2 separate regions of the Homo sapiens genome follow, and region 2 is linked to region 1. Evidence: fine-mapped expression QTL. A gene starts in region 1. The other region holds a variant in brackets. All regions are shown on one strand. Distances are from middle to middle. Region 1 holds the start of CLSTN3 (calsyntenin 3). Region 2 holds the start of C1R (complement C1r).

Region 1 (10,329 bases):
CAGATTAGAGGAGGGTTAAGCGTGAGAACCAGCTGGGTGCAGTGGCTTAGGCCCGTAATCTCAGCATTTGGGAGGCTGAGGCGGGAGAATCACTTGAAGTCAAGAGTTTGAGACCAGCCTGGGCAACACAGTGAGACCCCACCTCTACCAAAAAAAAAAAAACACAAAAACACAAAAAAGCAATTTCAGGCACCAGGAAATGAAGGCCTGAATTAGGGTGGTGATAGAGAAAGGTTAGGAGGGAACACAGGAGAGCCATTTAGAAGAGTGATGCTCAACAGAAATAAAATGGGTCAGGAGCCATATTAGAAAAGTAAAGAGAAATAGGGGAAATTAATTTAAATAATATATTTTAGTTAACCAAAAATATTCAAAATATTATTATTTCGGCATGCAGCCAATATAAACATTTCCGAAATGCTTCTTTTTATTTGGCATTGTCTGAAAGTCCACTTACAGCATCTAGATTTGGACTAGTTATATTTCAAGTATTCAACGGCCATCTGAAGTTAGCAGCTGCTATACTGGGTAATGCAGAAAAGCTACAAAGATTTCTTGGCCGATTAGATGTGGTGGTGGTGGTGGTGGTGGTGTGTGTGTGTGTGTGTGTGTGTGTGTGTGTGTGTGTGTGTGTGTGTGCTGGGAGCCTAGAGGTAAGGAAACAAGAGATATTGACCATGACTCCCAGGTCTCTGGCCTGGCTGGTTATTGCCATTAGTGGAGAGAGTAGATATAAAAGTGGGGTAGGTTTGGATAGGAAGACAGTGAATTTGAATTTGACCTTGGCATTCAAATGGAAATTGGTTCCAGGACCCCCACCTCACTAAATCTGCTGAATAAAATGGCTTAGTATCTGTAGAGAAACTACATACATCCCCCTGTGTACTTTATTATTATCATTTTGATACAGAGTCTTGCTCTGTCACCCAGACTAGAATGCAATGGCATGATCTTGGCTCACTGCAACCTCTGGCTCCCGGGTTCAAGTAATTCTCCTGCCTCAGCCTCCCAAGTAGCTGGGATTACAGGCATGCGCCACCATGCCCGGCTAATTTTTGTACTTTTGTATTTTTTTTTTTTTTTTTTTTTGAGATAGAATTTCGCTCTTGTTGCCCAGGCTGGAGTGCAGTGGTGCGATCTTGGCTCACTGCAACCTCTGCCTCCCAGGTTCAAGTGATTCTTCTGCCTCAGCCTCCTGAGTAGCTGGGATTACAGGCATGCGCCACCATGCCTGCCTAATTTTTTGTATTTTTAGTAGAGATGGGGTTTCTCCATGTTGGTCAGGCTGGTCTCGAACTCTTGACCTCAGGTGATCCGCCCGCCTTGGCCTCCCAAAGTACTGGGATTACAGGTGTGAGCCACTGCACCTGGCCTAATTTATGTATTTTTAGTAGAGATGAGGTTTCACCATGTTGGCCAGGCTGGTCTTGAACTCCTGGCCTCAAGTGATCTGCCTGCCTCAGCCTCCCAAAGTCTTGGGATTATGGGTGTGAGCCACCACGCCCAGCCTTTTCCCATATGCTTTAAATCATCTCTAGATTACTTATAATACCTAATGCAATGTACATGCTCTGTAAATAGTTGCTATACTGTATTGTTTTTTATTTGTATCATTTTGTATTGTTATTTTTTATTTTTATTTTTCCCAAATATTTTTCCATTTGCAGTTTGCTGAAGCTGTGGATGCAGAACCCATGAATATGGAGGGCCAACTGTATTTTGTAGGCAGTTGAAAACATTGCCCTGGAGCTCAGGAGATGGCTCTGGCTGGAGAATTCATGCCAAGGGCAGCCTATAGATGGAAGCAGAAGGCATGGGTGTAGATGATTTAGCCTATGGATAGTGGGCAGACAAAAGGGAGAAGACATTAAGAACAAAACTCTGCGGAGAAAACTCCAGTTTAAAGGATTAATAGGAGGACTAGGATCTGCAAAGGAGGCTAAGAAGGAATATGTAAGAAGTAGAAAGAAATGCAGGAGAGTGAAGTTATTGATGCTAAAGTAAAAGGGACTCTGGGTGACCAACAGTGTCACAGGCTGGAGGGTGGGCAAATGTTTGCTCTTCGGTCTGGGTTGGCCTGTTCTTTGCCCTTTGGGCTGGTGATAAGAGGGGGCAGGGAAGAAGTGGGAGAGAGACAGGGAGCACCAGGACCTGTTAGTTCTGGAGACTGGTATCCTGGGGACTGCATTCCCTGCTGTGGTGACCATTCCCCTCCTCCCCGCTGCTCTGGCTGGGGAAGGTCACTTTGTTTTGCCCCATGTTGTTAGGAGTCTCCTGTGATGCCTCCTTCCGGCCACCGCCCAGCCAGGGGAAATGTACCTGGCATTTTCGTCCGTCCACGCTCCTGAGGTCCTCCTCAAACTCCACTCCCACATCAAACTGCACAGTGTAGTTTCGGAAGGTGCTGAGCGTCCTCACCGTCATGTGGTTGCCCTGGTGTTCGATCTCCTTGTCCGGCTTCAGCAGCAGCGCGATCTTCCGCACAGCCAAGCTGATGTCTGTGGGGGCTGCCTGTTAGTAGGGGTGCTGCTAGCCAGCCAGGAGCTCCTCTGCCTGCAGCAGCCCCTCAGGGCTGTGAGTTTCCCTTCTTTGGGTCTGGGACTGTGGATTCACCCCCTCCTACCAATGCCTGGTTAGAAATGGATCCCAGGTCTGGTGCCAGCCGCCTGAGCCTTTCCACAGTGTCCAACCCCGGGCATTCCCTCTTCTCCATGGGACCAAGAAGCAGGAAGGAAGAGGGGAGAAAGGGAGTGACAGGGGTCTGGGAGGGCGAGGCCATTACTTAGGGCTTGCAGGTAGTCCTCCATGTTCTTCTGCGAGACAAAGCGGTAGTAGCCAGTGAGGTTGGGAGGCATTGTGTGGATGAAGGTTTCAGGAGAATGCAGGAGACAGGGTGAGGAAGGAGGGGGTGTTGTCTGGCAGGTGAGGCTGAGAGATTCCAGCCAGCTCCACACACAGAGACAGGATGTGTAATGGCCGGGTTACCAGGGCTTTTTATAAGGCTGGGGCCCTGTTGCAATAAGAGTCCCTACCAGACTTCTTCCCTCCCCGCATGGTGAGTTTGGGGGTGGTGTCTCCAGCCTGAAGGAGGGGCAGGGATTTGGCAAAGTTGCGCCTGACCTTGGCTTTTCCTGAGGAAGGAACCTGGAGCAGGATCCTTCCTGAGGAAGGAACCTGGAGCAGGATCTGGGGCTGTCAGTCATCCAAAACTCAGCCATCCAAAGGTCAGTGTTGGCCTCCACCTCATTTCTGGCAGGCTTGGGAACCGTCCCAGGGCCTGAGGGGCAGTCTTTCCTGGGAGACACCTGAGGCTGGTCTGGCTGTGTGAGGTGGAGATGAGTTCCAACAATATCCTGAGATCCTGGGACTGAGTGATGTTGGAAGATGTGAGGGGAGGGGGTGAGGATGGCCAGCTGCCACCATGAAGAGCACCCTGTAGGCCTGGCTCTCAGAGCTCCCTCAGGTAGTGTGCTCAACTGGGACCCCAAAGTGGCATTCCAGACTCTTGGTCCTAAAGAGCCATTAGGAGGGAGGTGGAGCCCGAGGGGTGCTGAGTTCAAAGTCCGGAACAGACAGCCTGAGAGGAGTTTGTTGGCTATTCTGGAGAATTTTATTCTTTTTGGCTTGGGACCCAGGGGGTTTTCTCTCCCTCTGAGTCATCGATGAGACCGTAACCCCCAGTCCCCAGCCCTAGGACAGCCCATGCTTTCCAGATGTATTTCTGTGAAGGTGGGGTGGAGGCGCCTAAATAATATTGTGCCCCGCCCCCAGCTGCCCAATTCTCTCTCGAACCTGCCATCGTCCCGGGCTTCAGAATCCACTGGGCTTGGTTCATCATGGTTTAAGGTGAAATTCGGGGCGAAGGAGGCAGGACAGGTAGGCAGGAGGAGGCGGCCGGTCCCGACAGGTGCGTGCGCGAGGGGTGCACGACGTCCTGCCCCTCCTTGGGTCCCAGAGCCTCGATACCGCCCTGCGGACCGCCCTGTGGCTTCCTCGCAGCCCTGGGCTACAAATGCCAGGATTTCTCAGGCTCAGACTGAGGGTTTTACTTCACCCTTCCCAGAGGGCACGCAGCACGGATCTGTGGATGGAAGGGGCTGTGGAAACAGGTTATGGCAGAGTTGGGGGGCGGGGTGACGCGGTGCCACCCCTCCTGGCCGCCCTCAGGTCCCGCTGACGTCTCTCTTCCCCACCCCCTGGCTTCTGGCTTCTTTCTCCCCACGTCCCTCTTCTTTCCCACCCCCTCCGTGGCTCTCCAGCTTCCTCCCCAGCCCCCGCAGTTCCTCGGCTCCCCCAAAATTGCAGCCAGGGGAAGGAGCCTTGAAACTCTCCAGCCCCGACGCCCCAGTCTCATTGGCTCCCTCCCCCGCTGCAGCACCTGGTCCCCCCCCCTCCCAGTCACCTGATTGGCCGGCGGCCCCATCAATCGTTGCCCGGCTGTGCTGACGTCATCCTGCAGTAGCGGGGTTGGGGTGGGAGTGAGAGAGTGAGGACGCTGGGCTGGGGGAAACGGGAAGCCGCTGCAAGTCCACCGCCTCAGCTACCCAGATTGGGATCTGCCCAGGCCCGCTTTATGGACTAGTGTGGGCGGCAGGCTCCTTTCCGTCCCTGCCCTGCTGTACCCCGCTCCTTGGAGACCCCCTGTATCCCTCCCGCAAGGTGGAATCCGCAGGCTGGAGGCTCCCAGGGGAGGCAAACGCCTGGCCCTGCCCTGCCCCACGCCGCACCATGACCCTCCTGCTGCTGCCCCTTCTGCTGGCCTCTCTGCTCGCGTCCTGCTCCTGTAACAAAGGTGAGTGAGGTGGGGGTGGGGGTACCGAAAGAGGGGCGTCGGGCAGCGCCGTGCGGGGTGGGGGTGGGAAGGAGGTGTCGAGGCTCCCTGGCACCTGACAGGTGTCTGGCCCTCTTCTGATCACCCTCCTTCCCATCCGTTCTCAGACCTGCTCCGTCTCCTCTCTTTCTCTTCCCCCAGCTACATCTTCCTTTCTGGTCCATCTCTACCCATGCGTTTCTCTTGCTGGTCATCTTGCTCCCATTTGGTCTCCATTCCCGTCCTGGGGTCTCTATTCTCCCCTTCCCCTAATTTCTACACGCTGGTGGCTACCTCGGGTCTGGGAAGGACTGCCCCCGAGCCGGTGATAGGCCTCTCCCCGCGGCTCTCCCTTTCACTGGCGCATGCTAAGGGTGTGTGGCAGATCCATCTGCTTCGCCTCCATCCCATCCTGGGGAGAAAGTATTTGCTGCAGTTCAGCAATTCGGAGCACGTATGTTTTTTGCGTGTGCCTCTGCATTCAGACCCTTTTGCCTGCATCAGCTGGGCTGTGGGTTACCAGAGCTGCCCTCTCTGGCAGACAGCGGATACATTCAGCTGGGCGGGGCTGTCGGACAGACGGAGAGGGAGGACGGGAGGGAGGGCTTGCGGGCAGAGGGCTCAGGTAGGTGGAAACGGATGGAGACTGGCAGGAAAGGGCAGAAGTGGGTGTGTGGGGGGCGCTAAATGAGTATGAGAGGGAAAGCTGAGAAGGAGAAGACCGGAGATGAGGCGTGGGAGGGGGTAAGGAGGGGATGGAAAAGGGTAAAGGTGGAGGCAGAAAAAAGAGGGAGGAATGAGGAAAATCAGGAAAAGAGTGAGTCAAGGAGGAGCCCGGGAGCCTAGGAGTGAAAGGGAGCAAACGCAGAGACCGCAGGGGGCCAGGAGGAGAGGAGACAGAGGCTCAGAGACCTGGGAAGACAAGCAGGGTGGGAGGGGGAGCTGTGCAGAGGGCGCCCAGCCCTGCCCTTCCACCGCTCTCTCTTCCTTGCCTGCATCTCTGACCTCAGCCTCGCCTCCTAGCCTCCTGCCACTTCCTGTACCGCCTCCTGTGCACCATCTTGTGGCTTTCTCCTCAGCATTCAGGAAGGGGTTATGGTGGTCATCAGTAAGAAAGCCTTCCCATGCCAAAGGCTTGCTGGTGTGTGGTTGGAGGAAAGAATGGAAATCAGGGTTTCTTGCTCACCGTGAGATACTGGGGATGAGGTTCCTTTTGGTGACTCAGTTTCCCTCTGCCTCATGATTGTGCTTTGGGAGCCTGGGTGTTGGCATGATGATGGGATTAGAGCAAGCGTGGAGGCTGGGGTGGGGGGTGATGTGGAAGGGGAGGAAATATGCTTCCCCACAGCCCCTCACCAGGCTGAATCTGGTAGAAGATGGGGAGATTTGGAGTCTGATGAGTCCCGCATCCATTCTGAATTGGCTGGTGGTTGAAGGGAAGAGGGATGGGGTAGATAAGAACTGGGATTGAGTTCTGTATAAAAAGTGGGTTTCAGGGAATGTGGTTTGATGGTCTTGTGGAGGACATAGAAATGTGTCGGTTTCGAATGTGTTCTCTTGGGTGTGGGGGTGGGAAGCAGGGACGGGATTTGTCATGTTTCTAGGCCAGCCCGATAATCCCTTAGGATGACGGCTCTGCTGGGTCCAGTTGCTCAGCATTGATTCCTCTGCTCCATTCCTGCCCCTCTCTGCCCCCTCCCTCTGTCCTATATATCTTCACTTCTCTCCTTTCTCCCCATCCTGTGTTCTGGGAGAGTGGCCTCAAGTTGGGGCTTGGCTGGGAGAAGTGCAGAGTGAAGGGATCAGGACTGAAATGAGTTGGGAGGAGGATAAGCAATCAGGATCTCAGGAAACTTCTAGATCTTTTTCTAGTTTCAATTCTGCCCTTAATCTATCCCTTCCCTTTCCCAGGGCCTTCTCACAGCCCACCACTGCTCCCTGAAGTTCCCTGTCTCCATTCTCTAGCACGTGAAATCGCTAAAGAACATTCTCCACTTCCTGACCATGGTTCCCATGGAGATAGTGATCCCCTCCTCTTCACCCCCAGGGCAGGTTGTTTCCATGGGAACTGTCTACCCTGCTATAGGAGAAGGCTATGACCTCCCGCAGACCCTCTGACTCCTTTAGTAGCTGATTTCTTGTCCTCAACCACCCGCCTCCTGTAAGGTGCTCCTATAGGGGGTGGAAAAGGTGATGGTGCTGGGGTGTGAGTTGTCTGGGTCAACAAGGGTTGTTGTGGGAGTAGAGGCCCTGCTCACAGGTGCTTCCTCTCCTCTCCCTGGGGTGGGGCCAGCCAACAAGCACAAGCCATGGATTGAGGCAGAGTACCAGGGCATCGTCATGGAGAATGACAACACGGTCCTACTGAATCCACCACTCTTTGCCTTGGACAAGGATGCCCCGCTGCGCTATGCAGGTAATTGGGATTGGGGGATGGCAAGGCAGGGTAGGACAGAGAAAAGTGGGTGGGAGGGCCAAGAGCAAGGGAGGGAGGGAAGGTCCTGGGAGTGATGAGAAAGTAAGGGAAGATAAAAGTGGGCTCAAGGAGGGGAATGGTCTCCACTGAAGAATGGAGATTGAGTCAAGGATGCCAGAAAAGGACATGGCCAGGCAAGGGTTAAACACATCATGATTTTGTCAGATCTCAGGTCTGGAGGCTCTGGGAGGTTGCTGCTCAGGGAAGCTGGGCTTAGAGTTGCGTGTTTGATCATTAATGCTTTTGTGCCTACAGGAGAAGGGACAGGGCTTTGGGAGGAGAGGTGGAGCTGGACCCCAGGTGGGGAGACTGAGGGTGGGGAAGGAGACACAGCAGCCTCACTCCTCCCCTTCTCCCCTTTGCCAGGTGAGATCTGCGGCTTCCGGCTCCATGGGTCTGGGGTGCCCTTTGAGGCTGTGATCCTTGACAAGGCGACAGGAGAGGGGCTGATCCGGGCCAAGGAGCCTGTGGACTGCGAGGCCCAGAAGGAACACACCTTCACCATCCAGGCCTATGACTGTGGCGAGGGCCCCGACGGGGCCAACACCAAGAAGTCCCACAAGTGAGGAAGTCCTTGTCTCCTGCCCCATGTGTTGCAGGGTCCTCCTCCCTGCTCCCAAGCCCACCATCCTCTGTCCGTGCGGTCATCGAATATCCACCCCCACCCGCTGCTGTTCCTAGGACTTAGGGAGCCCCATCCCCTGCTGTTCCTAGGATTTAGGGACTTTCAGGCAAGGTGACAGAAACGTATAGTAGAGTTCAGTGGATCTAATCTTGGCTTTGCCTCTCATGACCTTGGGCAGCCTAGCCTTTCTGGACTTGCTTTTCCTTATCTGTAGAATGGAGATTGTGATGACACCTACTTCATAAGGCTGCTGTGAAGATTCAAGGAGATGGTTTGTGTTGAAAGCATGCACCACAGTGCCTGATACACGTTGAAGGGCACAGTACATGGGCATAATGATGAGGAGGAGAGCAAGAAGGAAGAGGATGAACACACTCAGCATGCATCCAGTTCCCTTTCAACTGCCCCCTCCAGTCTATTTGCAGTGTATACCACACACACGATCCCTATCATACACATATAGCTCTAGGTGAGGGTGGGCAGGCGATGGTTGTAGCAAGAAAGAGGCTCGGGTCTGGGACACCTACGCTTGTTGCCAGCTAACTTCTTATTTGAGAATAAGAGAAAGATCTTCAGTCAGGATTCCTGAGCCACTAAGAGGCACTAGAGATAAAATGCTCTTTGTGACTCAGTTTCCCATTTGAAGATAGGACCCTTGCCTCTGGGGCCTGGGAGCCTGGGTCTTGGCCTGGGGCAGGGCTCAGCATGAAGGGCCTCGACCCAGCTCTGCTTGCCCCGGTGCATGACTAGGGAGGGGCCGCATGTGCGGGAGGCAGCACTGCCCACACGTACTGTGCAGACATGTCAGATGACTTGTGACCTTTGTACACATGCCATTTCCCTTCTTATGGCTGGTTTTAATTTGGCTTTTACTCTGCATCTTCCTTGCTTATCCCCCCGGATCTGACTGTTGTGAAGGAAGGCCCTGCTGGATTTTATGCCTTACCCCTCCTCTTGGCACCCTGACCCATAGCATTTTGCACAGAAGTCATCAAAATCAGCTCCTGAGCACCCCTGGGCCTTGTTCCTCATCCCCTACATCAGTCCTCCTTTCTTTGGGCCCTCCCTCTGGTGTTGTCCTCTCCCTGGCATGACTTTGATGCAGCTTGGTGCCCTGTGGGGTGGGGAGGAGCGTGCTGACTGCCTCAGTCTCAGGGATAGATGGGCAGGCTCCCTCCTGTTCTGGCTCTCCGTCGGGATTCCTGCTTGCTCCTTTCTGGCATATGGGTGTACCGTGTCGAGGCTGTACCTTGGTGTACAGTATAAGGCTGTATCTCGTTGTGCCCATATTGAGGCTGTTTGTTGGTGTACAGTATTGAGGCTGTATCTTGGTGTACGGTATCGAACCTGTCCCTCCATGTGCCGTATCAAGGCTGTATCTTGATGTACCGTATCGAGGCTGTACCTCGGTGTGCTGTATCAAGGCTGTATCTCAATGTATAATGTCGAGGCTGGCTGACGTGTCTTCATCCCTCCTTCTCTCTGGCATATGCAGGGCCACTGTGCATGTGCGGGTCAACGATGTGAACGAGTTTGCCCCAGTGTTTGTGGAACGGCTGTATCGTGCGGCTGTGACAGAGGGGAAGCTGTACGATCGCATCCTGCGGGTGGAAGCCATTGACGGTGACTGCTCCCCCCAGTACAGCCAGATCTGCTACTATGAGATTCTCACACCCAACACCCCTTTCCTCATTGACAATGACGGTGAGTCCACCCCTGGCTTCCCTGGCCACCCAGTTCCCCTTGAGCACCCACCTCCCTCAGGACAACCCAGGGTTGCATTCTCCACTTTTGCCCCTCAGACCCTCACCTCACCCTTCTTCCCAAATGGAGCCTTCTCCTCCCAGATGCCTTTTTTCCCAGCGTCCTGCTGCCTAACCTGCCTGCTGCCCGATGATCTCAGACATCCTCCCCTCCCTGCCCTGGGCTTTCTCCAATGCTCTAATGCTCTGTCCTCCTGACCCCACCCCAGGGAACATTGAGAACACAGAGAAGCTGCAGTACAGTGGTGAGAGGCTCTATAAGTTTACAGTGACAGCTTATGACTGTGGGAAGAAGCGGGCAGCAGATGATGCTGAGGTGGAGATTCAGGTGAAGCCCACCTGTAAACCCAGCTGGCAAGGTGAGAGCTCAGCGCTGTGCCCCATCTTGTGAATCATCTTTTTTCTTGGTCTCTCTTTCTGTCCTTTCTGACAATCATGGGGGCCAGGCTAGGGCTTGGATGATATTGGGGCAGGCTTGCAGCTATCTACTCTAGCCGGGCCATCCTGCCAGGAGCCCCAAACTGTCCATGGACATGGCAAGAGGAGCATGGAGAGGGGAGGCTGCTTTACCCTTCTCTCTCCCCATCACCCTCTCTGTCTCACCCATGCAGGCTGGAACAAAAGGATCGAATATGCACCAGGTGCTGGGAGCTTG
Region 2 (8,000 bases), 35 kb before region 1:
CCCTCCCCTTCCAGGAATAGGACTGGCTTGGGACCAGTTAATGGAGGGTGAGGGTTTCCACCCGTGGGTCTCTGAAAGGGCTCCCACAGGTTCAGCAAGAGCGTCTGGGAGAAACCATCTGTGGAGTGGGGGACACAGGCACAGAGTGTCCCGTCCTGGGCAAGGGGTCCCCTCCTCTCGCTGCTCCCTGCCAAGAGCCCAGAGGGAAGAAAGGACCATGGCATGAGCATCTATGTATGAAGTCTCCTCTGATCCCTAGGAGGAGGGATGGGGCGTGTGTTGTGTGTGTCCACGCGTGTGCACAGTGGAACTGATGAGGTGTGTGAAGAGAGAAGGGTGTTCCTGTCTCCCTGAATTGCCTCCCATGCCCTGGCTTCTCCCCTGGCTTCTCCCTCCCACCTGGTTGCCCATCACCCTTACTCACATTTCTCAAGGCCCGTGTTGAATCCTGGGCTCTCCCGACAGCGTCTTCGTGCACTGTGTGCAGAGGGAGCCCGCGTCATGCACAGCAGGGAGGGGAGGGTTTTCTGTGGAGTGGAGGGGGGACCATTCCCGGAGGAATGTTGGAGGGAATGAACTATTTGCATAAACAAAAGATCTGAGTTTCCACTTTAATTTAGTTTTGGTTTTGAAATCCCTGTTTGTGGTGCCACCTGCTGGTCGGTGAGGGAAAGGGCTAAGGAGACGGGAGTCTGGCTTTTTAGGGCCCGGGGAGCCTTGGGTTGGAGGCCCAGATGTCTCAGTCTCTAAATCTGATCAGCTTCTCCCTTCTTCCAAGACTTTCCTGGGGGCTGCTGCTGTGTTTACAAGGTTCCTACCAAAGCAGTGGGAGACCACAGGTGGTGGTGAATTCTCTTTTCTGGGCTGTCCTTTCCCATTGACCCTGTTCTTCCTGCCCTCATTCAGCCCACAGCCCTGGTCCAAGAATGGCCCGGGTTTCAATGCCCAGGACGTAATGATAGGAACACTGGGGCAGAGGAGGGTGTGTGGGAGCGGGCAGAGGAGAGAGGAGCTTGGTTGCCTTGGGGCCCTGGCCTGCTTTAGCCATGAATGACACTTGGACATAGAATAGGGTTGGCCATGTCAGGGCAACCCTAAATCAGCCCTGGGTTTGAGACCCTCTGGGGCGGCTGCGGAGGGGGTAAAATGTCCCCATCTCCTTAGCATCTGCTCAACACAACTGCCAGGGCTGAAGCTAAGGATGCGGGTGTGGAGCAAGAGGGACTCGGTTTTTCTGAGATGAAGCCAGGCCCCTGGGAGGGAGGAGGGACCCTAGTCTCTCCTGTCCATCAGGCCATAGTGTCCTGCTTTAAAACTTTTGCTCTTGGCCACGTGTGGTGGCTCATGCCTGTGATGCCAGCACTTTTCGAGGCCAGGGTGGGAAGATCTCTTGAGCCCAGGAGTTCGAAACCAGCCTGGGCAACATAGTGAGATCTCGTCTCTAAAAGTTAAAATAAATTAAAAAACAATTTCATTGTTTTTGGAAGGCTTTCTTCATCAACTCTCCATGGCACCAAATATCTGATGGCACTTCATCCCACGGAGGGGCTTGGGCTGCAGAGCAGGACTCTGCGTTCTTAAGCCTTTGTAGGCTGTTCTGCTTGTTTCCCTTATTAGATGAATCCCTCCAACCTCCACCCTTCTGCCCCCACCCCCGTTCATCCATTTATGGGCTACCTGTTTAATGTGCAAGACACTTTCCCAGGCAATAGATTGCAAGAATTCACAGAGCTGATGCAGTTCCCCATCAGGCAGTGACCACATCATCAGTAGTTAGACAGCAGGCACACAGAAGGTGCAAGATCCACCAACGCTTGGAGGGTTTCTCCAGCAGGCCTGTGTGTCAGAGCTGAGGACTGAACCTAACGGAGGGCTGGTCTGTGATGGGATCAGCATATGATCCACAGCCTTGTTAGATCAGGAAAGACAAAAGATGGGGGAGAAGGAAAAGCACCAGATCAGAGGACGAGAAGGAAGGGGAATCTCGTCTAACAAACTGCACATTAATATCCTAGCAGCAGTTTGTGTGTGTGTGTGTGTGTGCACGCGCGCATGTGCCGTATGTTCATAATGGAGGCAGAGGGAACAGGTAAGGAGGTAAGTCTTAGCTGAAGCTCTTCCGTCCATCCTAGGGATTCTCAGTTCTGCGTTGGCATTGTGCAACACGCTTGGAGAGCGGCAAACCTGGATGTCATTAGCTCAGTCCCAGCCCTGTCTCCACTCTGCCCAACCATTCAAAATAACCTTTACTCACACATTTTTGTTATGTCCTTGACTTTGTTTTGTCCTTGACTCATACCAAGAAGGAAAAAAATGCCATATGAAATGCTGCTGCGTTTGTTTTAAAACAATTATTGAGGATATAGTCGGTTACAGTGTTTGTTCCTTTAAGGATTTGATTCTTGGGAAAAAGATTTCTCTCTTAAAGTAGTGGTAGGTTTTCCTCTGTGGATATGTCTCTATCGCTAGCTCATCTATCTCCATCATCTCTATCTCTTACCTCCCTCTCTCTCTCATTGTCGATATCTCTATCTCTAGACAGAGACAGCGATGGAGATGTAGAGATATAGATCTAGACATACACATATAAATATAGGTATATATATATTTTTTTGCCTTGGCAGGGAGAAACTCATATCATTTTTTGCAATCATAAAAATAAGCAAAATAAAATAAAAACATTTCATGCTCATTAAACAAATTTTAGCCAATAGAGAATAGTGGAAAACCAAACAGCCAAAATCTTATCAATAAAACCACCTCTGTTTAGTATTTTGAGAGAATTATTATTATATTTTTGGCGATGGGGTTTCACTATGTTGCTTAGGCTGGACTTCAACTCCTGGGCTCAAGCGATCCTCTTGCATCAGCCTCCTGAGTGGCTGGGGGTATAAGTGTGCATCATTGCACCTGCCTTTTGGGAATATTTTTAATAATCTTTTGTACTGTATGTGGGTGTAAAAAACAGAAGTAATCACATGTATGTACAACTTTGAATCCTGCCATTTTTTAGAGATAAATTTAACCTTTGACCATATAGCAACTTGACTCTTGATGCTAACAAATTACCTCTCTTCTCTCTTTTATGGTGTTTATTTTCTATTTCCATTGAACAGTTGTATTTTATTTGTGTCTTTCACTGTAAATCACCTCCAAT[C/CT]TTTTTTTTTTGGGGGGGATGAAGTCTTGGTCTGTCCGCAGGCTGGAGTGCAGTGGCGTGATCTTAGCTCACTGCAACCTCCGCCTCCCAGGTTCAAGTGATTCTCCTGCCTCAGCCTCCCGAGTAGCTGGGACTACAGGCACGTGTCACCACGCCCGGCTAATTTTTGTATTTTTAGTAGAGATGGGGTTTCACCATGTTGGCCAGGATGGGCTGGATCTCCTGACCTCGTGATCCACCCACCTCGGACTCCTAAGGTGTTGGGATTACAGGCGTGAGCCACTGCGCCCGGCCCATCACCTCCAGGTTTTACTAAAAATTAAAGAGTTGGTCCTCTCAGGTGGAGCAGTTCCCCTGATGATAGGGGCACAGGTGGGGTGTCTGCAAGAACTTCAGTCCAGTGCTGGGCTCACCTGGCTTCTGCAGGAGATGGGGCCATTAGGAAAGTGTGAGCTAGAGGATACCATTTTCGCAGAAGCAGGAATTCCCAGGGAGGGAAAATGGTAAGGATGTGGGGGCTGGGAGGGAAAGCGGGTGACACAGCAGGTTAGAGGAGGGTTGAGAAGTATTGCAGCACACTGGGAAGAGCACAGTCTCTGCAGTCACACACCAGCTGTGGGACTTGGGCAAGTCCCTTTATCCCCTGAGCCTCAGTTTCCTCATTTGTCACACATAGATAATAACACATCCTTTGCAAATATGGTATGAGGATTAAGTGAAATAACAGGTGAAGCACCTGGCATATAGAGGACATAAAATAAAAAAGGAGCTGTTTCTATAATTGCATCTTGGAGCTGCAGAATAGCTTGAATATTTGAAGGTCAACTAAAGGGTCTTAGGAATGTTTCAGAAATGCAATGCAATGAAAACCCCTTCCTCCATACTCTAATAGCGGGTGAGTAGCTGACTCTTCCACAGGTGAGTATAAAAGCTGTGTCAACAGATGAAGTAGGGGAAGGCGGTTCTAAGGACATTCAAGGCGAAAGTTGTTGAGATGTACAGGCTTCCCGGGGCCTAGTGCATGAGCACAGGGAGGTAGAGGGTGAGGAGGAGCGGTCTGTGGGACTCTGCTTCCTGTCTGGGATGGGGCGGGCTTGCCGGGTGGGGGTTTCTCTTGCAGTGGCTTGGTGCAACAGTGATGTGAATAGGATTTCCCTGCCTCCCCCAACCCCCCACCCCCAACCCCTACCCCAGTGTTCAGTCCTCACTCCAGGCCCTCTGTTGCCTGGGGCCTCCACTGTGCTGGTCAGTCCCTGTTCAAGCCCCCAGGGTCAATTCTTGCCATTCATCACTCCCTTGATCCAGTCCACATAGCTGAGCACCTTGGTGTAGAAGTCATACCCTTCGCCACACCCTATGCCCCAGGACACAATGCCCGTGGCCACCCAGTGATGGGCATGATTGTCCCATACCACATAGACGCTGCCACTGTCCCCCTGGCAGACACTGTGCCTTTGCGTCTCATCCCCAACACAGAACATATTGTCAGAAAACACCTCGGGTCTCTGTCTCTTTTGGAGCCAGGCGTTGCAGGCCTCCCTGGGAGCTACAGGCAGCCTCGAGTACTTCAGCTCAGTAGTTAGCCAGCCCATCTCCATGCCAAACCCACTGACGTAGCCCAACAAGCCGCTGCGGTAGAGGGTCTCATTATCGGGCAGACAGACCGGGAGGACGTTGGGGCCCAGGGGGATGCTGTGCTGCAGCTCCAGGAGGGCGATGTCCCCGCTAAAGTTATGGGACTCATTCTGACGGTAGTCGGGGTGCACAACGACACGGTGGACAGGGTGGTTCCCCAGTTTCAGCATCTCATCTATGGCTGTGTGGCCCAAGAACACATTCACACTCTGGTTCTTCCTGAGAGAAACACTGTCCTTGGGGTAGATGGTGTGGGCAGCAGTGAGGATCCATCTGTCCCCCAGCAGGGCCCCGCCCCCACGGCCGTGGATACTGGTGAAGGCTTGCCAGGGGAAGTTGCCCAGCTTGGCTCTGGAAGAACCGAGGGTCGTCTGATTCTGGGCAATGGGGGTGACTGGCCGTCCGCAGACTGGGAGAGAGGCGGGGTAGGGGTGACAGTCAGCAGCTGCATCTAGACACACTGATTAAAGACCTGCTTCTCTGAAGTGCTGTGGTAGGGGACGCGTGAAGAGACTCTGGGATCAGGACGTTTTTTTTTTTTTTTTGATATCGAGTTTCGCTCTTGTTGCCCAGACTGGAGCGTACTTGCGCGATCTCGGCTCACTGCAACCTCCGCCTCCTGCGCTCAAGCAATTCTGCCTCAGCCTCCCGAGTAGCTGGGATTACAGGCACCGACCACTACGCCCGGCTAATTTTTGTGTATTTTTTAGTAGAGACGGGGTTTCATCATGTGGGCCAGGCTGGTCTGAAACTCCTGACCTCAGTGTTCCACCCGCCTCTGCCTCCCAAAGTGCTGGGATTACAGGCGTGAGGCACCGCGCCTGGCCGGGATCAGGACTCTTATACTGATGCAGACCCACGGTGTAGACCATGTGGGCAGACAAGGACAGGTAATCAATGCCAAGTGTACGGGGCACCCATCCTGCATGGGACTCAGGACAGTGGACTGAGGGTAGGGAGCACAGATGAGCACATGTTTGGGGCTGGTTCTGCAGGGCTCTCCTTCCTGCCTCCTCAGAGGCATTAAAGCCATTCGTTTGGACCATCCTGGGCCCCCATACTACAGGCAGAGTCTGTTTCAGTGCCTCCTGCCTCAGTTTTGTGTCACTTCCTCATTTGTAACATCTCCCACTACCACCTGCCCTCCAAACCATCCCCAAAGCACTGCGAGTGTTCAGGCTACCCTTAGAGTTTTCCGTGGATCAGATTGGGTTAAGAAGGCAATGCTTTCGGCCGGGCGCGGTGGCTCACGCCTGTAATCCCAGCACTCTGGGAGGCCGAGATGGGCGGATCACGAGGTCAGGAGATCGAGACCATCCTGGCTAACCCGGTGAAACCCCGTCTCTACTAAAAAATACAAAAAAAAATTAGCCGGCCGTGGTGGCGGGCGCCTGTAGTCCCAGCTATTCGGGAGGCTGAGGCAGGAGAATGGCTTGAACCCGGGAGGCGGAGCTTGCAGTGAACCGAGATCGCGCCACTGCACTCCAGCCTGGGCGACAGAGCGAGACTCTGTCTCAAAACAAACAAACAAACAAAACAAAAGAAGGCAATGCTTTCATTCAAAAGCGTGGATCTCAAAAATGGTGGGCTTGAACCCTCATGTATTGCCGGTGAGATGTAACTTGGTGCTGCTGCTGTTGAAGACAGTTTGGTGGTTCCTCAAAAAGTTAAACAGAATTATTATACAATCCAGCAAGTCTACTGCTAGGTATATACCCAGGAGATTTAGAAACGTACGTTGATATAAAAACTTGTACACAAATGCTCATAGCAGCATCATTCATAATAGGCAAGAAATAGAGACAACCCAAATGTCCATCAGTTGAATGAATAAACAAAATGGCGTATCCATAGAAAGGAGTATTATTTAGCCATAAAAATGAAATACTGATGGATGCTATAACAGGAATGAACCTTGAAAACATTACGCTAACTGAAAGAAGCCAGACAGAAATGGCCACACATTATATGATTCCACTGATATAAAATCCATAAAGGCAAATCCATAGAGATAGAAGATTAGTGGTTGTCAGGGGAGAGTTGGAGGTACTGGGCTGTTTTGGGGAAGGTAATGGAAATGTTCTGGAATTAGTGGTAATGGTTTCACAACATTGTGAACACACTAAACATTACTGGATTGTACTGTTTAAAGTGGTTAAGGCTGGGCGCAGTGGCCCAAGCCTGTAATCCCAGCACTTTGGGAGGCTGAGGCGGGACGATCACCTGAGGTCAGGAGTTCAAGACCAGCCTGACCAACGTGGTGAAACCCTGTCTCTACTAAAAATACAAAAAAAAAAAAAAAATAAAATAAAATAAAAAAATGAGCTGGGCATAGTGGCAGGTGCCTGTAATCCCAGCTACTCAGGAGGCTGAGGCAGGAGAATCGCTTGAACCCAGGAGATGGAGGTTGCAGTGAACCAAGATTGTGCCGTTGCACTTCAGTCTGGGCGACAAGAGAGAAACTCCATCCCAAAAAAAAAAAAAAAAAAAAAAAAAAAAAGTGAGCCACTGCGCCCAGCCATGAATTTTATCTCAATAATTTTTTTTAAAATGGTTGACTGTCTGGCACTGTGTGGCATCTAGGTAGGGAGATATTTTAGGAATAGAGAGCCTGTCGGTATATCCTTAAAATGTATGGCACAAAAAGAGGGTTTTCTGTTACTTCAGCTTGTTGGTCTCTCTTCCTCCTTTTCTAGTCCATCTCATGAACGTCCTTCATGCTTTTCCTCAGATATATCTTGACCCCTGAAGAATGAGGAACAAGCTCCCTGCCTGTTCTTTTCTGGGCCTTCTTGATTGCCCTGTTCTTCCTCACCTTCTGCTTCTTATCTTCCTTTCTATTCTAAGGCTTTCCTTTAACCCCTGTGTCCTGTAGGTCCCAGTTGCAGCTGAGGCTTGTTGGGGGAATGGTGCTAGCAGGTGGCTACTCACCAGGCATACACTGAAGAACCTCCTCCCCATCCTGTCTGTCTTTCCAGGTCCCTGGGGTTGCACAGGTGAGTGCCCCTGTGGCGTAAATGAGGAGAGGCAAAGAAATAGGCTCGGAGTTGAAGCTGTTGGTTAACGAAGCAGGTGCTCAGAGGGTGTCAGGCATTTGGGTGGGAATGAGGTGGATGGAAGCCACCCCTCGGCAGGTGGGGACTCACCTGCTGCCGCGGCCTGATAATAGGGCTCCTGGCAGTGGTTCTGGACCTTGGCAGGGTTGTCT

Evidence for each region. PIP is the estimated chance that this variant, and not a neighbour inherited with it, causes the effect.
Region 2: its variant is fine-mapped to the expression of CLSTN3 in whole blood (TOPMed, PIP above 0.99).

The regions. Positions count from the first base shown.
Region 1 is chr12:7,125,921-7,136,249 of GRCh38, forward strand. CLSTN3 (calsyntenin 3) reads left to right here and starts at 4,451. Exons shown (of 18, transcript NM_014718.4): 1 at 4,451-4,792; 2 at 7,104-7,226; 3 at 7,653-7,848; 4 at 9,407-9,615; 5 at 9,884-10,033; 6 at 10,286-10,329. The coding sequence starts at 4,729. It overlaps RBP5 (retinol binding protein 5), which reads right to left and starts at 2,969. Exons shown (of 4, transcript NM_031491.4): 1 at 2,783-2,969; 2 at 2,320-2,498. The coding sequence starts at 2,855. RefSeq lists silencers at 4,208-4,307, 5,398-5,467 and an enhancer at 4,749-5,250.
Region 2 is chr12:7,091,963-7,099,962 of GRCh38, forward strand. It overlaps C1R (complement C1r), which reads right to left and starts at 483. Exons shown (of 11, transcript NM_001733.7): 1 at 425-483. The coding sequence starts at 426. C1RL (complement C1r subcomponent like) reads right to left here. Exons shown (of 6, transcript NM_016546.4): 4 at 7,939-8,000; 5 at 7,724-7,798; 6 at 2,592-5,201. The coding sequence ends at 4,429. RefSeq lists an enhancer at 531-825. The variant C/CT (reference allele first, on the strand shown) is at 3,158.